Homo sapiens: one gene and its partner. The protein of the gene in region 1 interacts with the protein of each later gene in a pairwise test. Each region holds a gene or a part of one and is shown in the gene's direction. Other genes may lie near its edges.

Region 1 (3,085 bases):
TTTCTGTGGCTTAAATATTGGTCTAAGCCCTTAAAATGTATTAACTTATTTAACCCTATGAACGAAGTATTTCAATCCTCCCCATTTTCCAGAAGAGGATACTGAGGCACAGAGAGGTATAAAGCTAAGAACTGGCCCAAGTGTCTTTGACTCAAGAGCCTGTATCACCTTTTGTAAAATACATATGAATCACGACAGAGCCACTTTAGCATACCATTCAAAATTAACTCAGAATGACAAAGAAAGTCAGTACTGCAGTATTTCAGAAACCATTACATTTTTCTCAAATAAGGCAGTAAGCAGTGCCAGATGGGCTAGATAGGGGAACAGGAATAGAAAGATGGAATCGAAAGCCTTTTTGTTTCTTAAAACACAGCCAAGCCACAAAGTAGGTGGTCTTTTCCTTCCTCTTAAAAATAAACAAAGAAAATAAAGGGTTAATTTATTTCTGGTATCCTTTCACATACAACTAATGATGTGGTTATTTCTGGTATGTATTTTTGAGATCTGCCATCACTACTTCTGAATTGTTCAGAATAGCCGGCTTCATTTGGGCCAGGAAATGATTCTGGTCCCAATTAGAAAGGACCTCATGTTCTTATATACAAAAAACAGTGGCTTAATTGTTTTGAGTACCAGGCACCTGAAGTAAAACAAGTACTAACCTCAGTCAGGATTTTGCAAACAGGTATTAACTAGAACTTAGGGATAACCATGCCAGTGACTCAGACTTCTTTCCACTGCTGTCCTTCCTCCTCAAATGGTTCACTTGGGCTATGTGCCTGGCACTGTGGGTGTGTCATAAAGATCTGTTTATGAAAGCCACTTCCTAAATACTTTTCTAAAATGTATTTATAAACCATCTTTAAAAGGTGGCCTTAATTTATTTTCTTCCTTATTATGTATTGAGTATTTTCATTAAAAATAAAATCATTTGGGCGAGGCGTGGTGGCTCACGCCTGTAATCCCAGCACTTCGGGAGGCCGAGGTGGGCGGATCACGAGGTCAGGAGATCGAGACCATCCTGGCTAACAGGGTGAAACCCCATCTCTACTAAAAATACAAAAAAAAAAAAAATTAGCCGGGCATGGTGGCGGGCGCCTGTAGTCCCAGCTACTCGGGAGGCTGAGGCAGGAGAATGGTGTGAACCCAGGAGGTGGAGCTTGCAGTGAGCCAAGATCGCTCCACTGCACTCCAGCCTGGGTGACAGAGTGAGACTCCATCTCAAAAAAAATAAAAATAAAAAATAAAATCATTTGAAAAACCTATAATGCTATTAAAATTCTTTATCAGATACTATAGCTGGAATTTCAAATGTCTAAATCTCCTAACAACGTACATGTCCACGCTACAGTTTCAGCATATGTTGAGTTTTAAAAAGAATTAAGTGGGCAACTGCTTTCTTTATGCCCTGTATCAACACCACCCATGCATATCACTCAGACCAGTCTTCAAGGCCTGGTGGGAGCTTTTCTCCTCCAGCCTACAGCATCCTCATCTGCTTGGGGGCTGGAGAAGGGGGATACTCAGATGTGTTCTTGGCTCCTACTCTAAAGGGAAGCCTTTTGTTTACTTACTTTCTTTCGCTCAATCCTGGTTTTGCCTTTTTTCCTTAGGCTTTGTTATTTGGTTCTCTACTGCACAGAAATAGATAGAATTCTGACAGCCATCATTGTTAAACATCAGGATTTTCTAAGAGGACAGACTTAACAGTAACATCATGGCCTCAGCAGGACTCCAGCTCCTTGCTTTCATCCTGGCCTTATCTGGGGTCTCTGGAGTGCTCACAGCCACTCTGCTGCCCAACTGGAAGGTGAATGTGGATGTGGACTCCAACATCATAACAGCCATTGTACAGCTGCACGGGCTCTGGATGGACTGTACGTGGTACAGCACTGGGATGTTCAGCTGTGCCCTGAAACACTCCATTCTGTCCCTCCCCATCCACGTGCAGGCTGCGAGAGCCACCATGGTCCTGGCGTGTGTTCTGTCTGCTTTGGGGATCTGCACTTCCACAGTAGGAATGAAATGTACTCGCTTAGGAGGGGACAGAGAAACCAAGAGCCATGCTTCCTTTGCTGGAGGAGTCTGTTTCATGTCTGCAGGAATCTCTAGTTTAATCTCGACAGTGTGGTACACAAAGGAGATCATAGCAAACTTTCTGGATCTGACAGTTCCAGAAAGCAACAAACATGAACCTGGAGGAGCTATCTATATCGGATTCATTTCTGCAATGCTGTTGTTTATCTCTGGCATGATTTTCTGCACCTCCTGTATAAAAAGGAATCCAGAAGCTAGACTCGACCCACCCACACAGCAGCCTATCTCTAACACACAGCTCGAGAACAATTCCACACACAATCTGAAGGATTATGTGTAAATAACTGAGTAATGCATATGAAATGGAACTTTTGGGTGCCAAATGGGACTTTTAGATTAAAAAAAAATCAGAATTATGCTTAACTTTCCCTACAAAGAAAGTAGAATGTAAAATACTTTAACAACTACAAAGTAGTTTAAAATGCCAATAAAACTATCATATACAATTACATCTGTCTGAAGAGTTCTTTATTTTTTCCATTATTGTTTCCATGTTTTACTTAAAGATTTATAATTGAAAGAGGTTCTGATTACATTCATAAGGCAATTATTTGATAGCTTTTTCAAGATAATTTGCTGATACACCTTTCAAACTGGATTTTATAAAAGAACTAAACTGCCAAGTATAAAAAGTACCTTGCCCTGGTGTTAACCAAGAATATTATCCACTTTGCTATCTGGTTGGCAACAACACAGCAACTTGCTTCTGTTTTAAAGCTACAGTGTGTGAAAGTACATTAGGAATACAAGAGCTGCCTACTCCATTCAGATGCTGCTAAAACCATCCATCCCAAGTCCCCACCTCCTGTGACCAGCCCATTTCTTTTTCATTTTAGAAAACTATCTACATATATTTGTAAGAGCTGACAATATTATATGCAAACTAAGATTAGGCAGAACTGAAGAAATTGGTAAATGCTACCACAGTAAAGAAAGCCAAACCAAACTAAAATCTCTAGGACTCTTAAAGCATTAAGTACAAGCT
Region 2 (2,787 bases), on another chromosome or scaffold:
AAACAAAGGTATCCACTTGAGGCTTAGTACTGTTATGCAAAAAGCACTGGCTTTGGAGTTAGAATGTGGCTTCTCGCCCTGCTGTCACTCCTCATCTGGCCCTCAGCTTCCCCAAGTAGAGTAAGTCCCTCTTGCTCCAGGTCTGACCAGTGGTTCTCTGTGTACATGAGGTGTGTGAGGTTCCTGAAGATGGAACTTGAGCTACTCAGAGGAGCTCATTGGGCATCCACAGCTGCAAAGGGTTAGAAGTCAAACCTTTTCATTTCTTTCCTTTGGTTTTACTTCTTAGATGAATCTTTTTTTCTCACTATAATGTGAAAAGATAGTTGGTTTCTTTTTCTGCGAAATAGACAAAGAGGTATATTTTGGTGCAGATCATTCCTCAGCCTTGCAAAATTACCCTGAAGCCCTTACTAAGCGCACAGGGATACATGTCCCCTTCACCCCACTCTTAGTAGTATTGGGGCAATACTTTAGGTCACACACTTTTAATGCATGTTTAATTCCTGGAGTCCATTAAAAATAAGAGGGCCAGGGAGTTACCCAATCAAGAATTCATTGAGTTCTGGTGCCCAGAGGGCTTATGTTCCCACGCTGGCCTTTGCAGTAGTGATGATGATCTTTCCCCCAGCACTACCGTATTATCCAGCATCATCTGGGAGCCCCTGGACACAGCCATCATGCAAGCACATGGCAGCTGGTGGCATAAAGAATCCACTGCACCCCCACCTCCACCCCCAGACCTGCCCTGCAATTGCACAAAAAGGAAAACAACCATAATCATCATCCTGATGAGAATGATAATAGGCACTTAGAGCTTTCACATCTTTTATCCAAGGGATACAATATGCTCTCCCAAAAAATTTTTATTCCAGTGTTGTGGGAAGTAGAAGGGGCACAGTAGTGGAGTTGGCGAGATGCTGTAGTGACAGGAATGAGGGAGAAGCCAAGGGGTCTGGCCTCTGGAAGGTCCCTCTCCTGAGGGGCAGCCTGAGTCCTCTGTGGGCTTCTACTAACACCTTCCTCTCTTTTTTTTTTTTTTTTTTTTTTTTTGCATTCAGCATGATCTACACTTTAGTGAGCTCTTAACGCAAAGACCATGCACATCATCAGAGACTGAGATGGGAGAGGCCTGAGACGGAGAGGTGCATTTCTGCTGGTGACTGGAGGAGGGACCAGAATGAGGATACGTGAGAAATAGACCCGGCAGGCAGTCAGACTGAATGGGAGCTGGAATCACGCAGCAGCTGGGAGCCGAGTTAACCCTGCGTGTCTGTGTCACCCTGTTTGTCAATCTTTGGCATTCGAATTCCACACACGGGGTCCTAGAGCCCTTCTGAGCATCAGTGGTGTGGGGGAGTAGGTGACGAAACACTAGACCTCTCCTGAGAGAGAATTGCTGCTTCCTGAATCCACTTCATTGAACAGCACCTTGCAAGTTCAAATGAGTTCCTGGGAGCGGAGGCTGGAAGGCCACAAGGTGCTTGCTAAGGAACAGAATGACCCAGAGTCAAGGCCAAGTCTGCAGGGACCTGTTGAAAGCCTCGAGAATGTCTTGGCTGCCCAAGACTCTTGTTGCCTTTCTTCCAAGCCATGGCCATGCCCTTTTTCTCAAATGGGAGGGGCTGGAGGGTGTGTGGGATTTGTCTTCAGCTGCAACCAGCCTTGAGCCTGCTGGGCTATTTTCAGCTGAGGAGGGGTGAATATAGGAAAAATGCATTTTTGAAACGTTTGCAACATGATCAAGGTGTTAGTTCTCCACCACACAAGTTGTATTCTTCTTTTGCCACCTCAAACCATCACAGAGTCTTTAAATGCAAATCAATTGGTCAATGCTAGTCAAAGCTATGTTCTTACAAAAACCCCAGACAGCTCAGAGCTCAGAAAATCCTGTGGAGTGGCTGCTCTGTACCGTGGGCATCCGGCAGCCAGGAAGTGAGACAACATAATTATAACTTTGTTTTATGATGCTGCATCATTTGTACTGTTTAGGTCGACGTGAGGACATCATCTTATTTAGAATTTTCCGTTTGGCATTCTCTTTTGGGTGGGAGTTATGCTGGGGGTTGTAAATAATGACAAGGCTGAGATTTTTATGATGTTTAAATTGGGCACAATGATTTTGACCTTATTCCCCAAACTTCTTTTCTTTTCTACTGTTTAACATACACAGGCTATTTATACACGTCCCCAGCTCCCATCTGAAACCTGTGACTCAGGTTTATGAATGGTGTTTGTGTAGCAACACATTGTGTGCTATGTTTATTAAAATGCAGCGACAACTTGAGTGTCTCACTTAACTGGCTCTCTCATTTCAACCATTACAGCTGAATTTGTCTACATATGGTTGGAAAACTGATAGGAAGAAAAGGCAAATTTTCAAAAAGGCATCATGCTGCTAAAAATTCTGTGGAAAACAAAATGCAGACTTTTACTCTGAGGTTTATGGTATAAAACTGGAGAATTTGAGGTGATGATTTTGGGAGAAGGCTTCCTCTTGGCCAATGCCCTTTTTACCGACCAGGTAACTGTTGTTAGGGATAGAGTTACCTTTCGGCTGCTTGGGCCTGGCTTTGGCTTCATTCCTGAGAAGACTAGTGACCCTCATCCAGAGAGGCAAGCCTTGGATGGCAGGCTGCAGACGCTAATCTAATCGCACAGCCGTCCTGCAAATGCAACTGGATGTAGAAGGTGAATGGTCTGTGTTACTTCTCACCATGGAGCTGTTTTGTTTCTATACTCTGTCTTCTTTCAGAAAGATTTGTAGTGGCTCATAATAGGAGACAC

The links. The genes of interacting proteins can lie anywhere in the genome.
Region 2: the proteins of CLDN20 (region 1) and CNIH3 interact in binary tests that used the Homo sapiens proteins (3 or more experiments, as listed by UniProt).

Annotation. Positions count from the first base shown.
Region 1 is NC_000006.12:155,274,000-155,277,084, forward strand, and holds the end of CLDN20 (claudin-20 precursor), read left to right. Parts: intron 1-1,616; 5' UTR 1,617-1,720; coding exon 1,721-2,380; 3' UTR 2,381-2,549; downstream 2,550-3,085. UniProt on the Homo sapiens protein: Plays a major role in tight junction-specific obliteration of the intercellular space, through calcium-independent cell-adhesion activity.
Region 2 is NC_000001.11:224,738,268-224,741,054, forward strand, and holds the end of CNIH3 (protein cornichon homolog 3), read left to right. Parts: intron 1-1,061; coding exon 1,062-1,089; 3' UTR 1,090-2,287; downstream 2,288-2,787. UniProt on the Homo sapiens protein: Regulates the trafficking and gating properties of AMPA-selective glutamate receptors (AMPARs).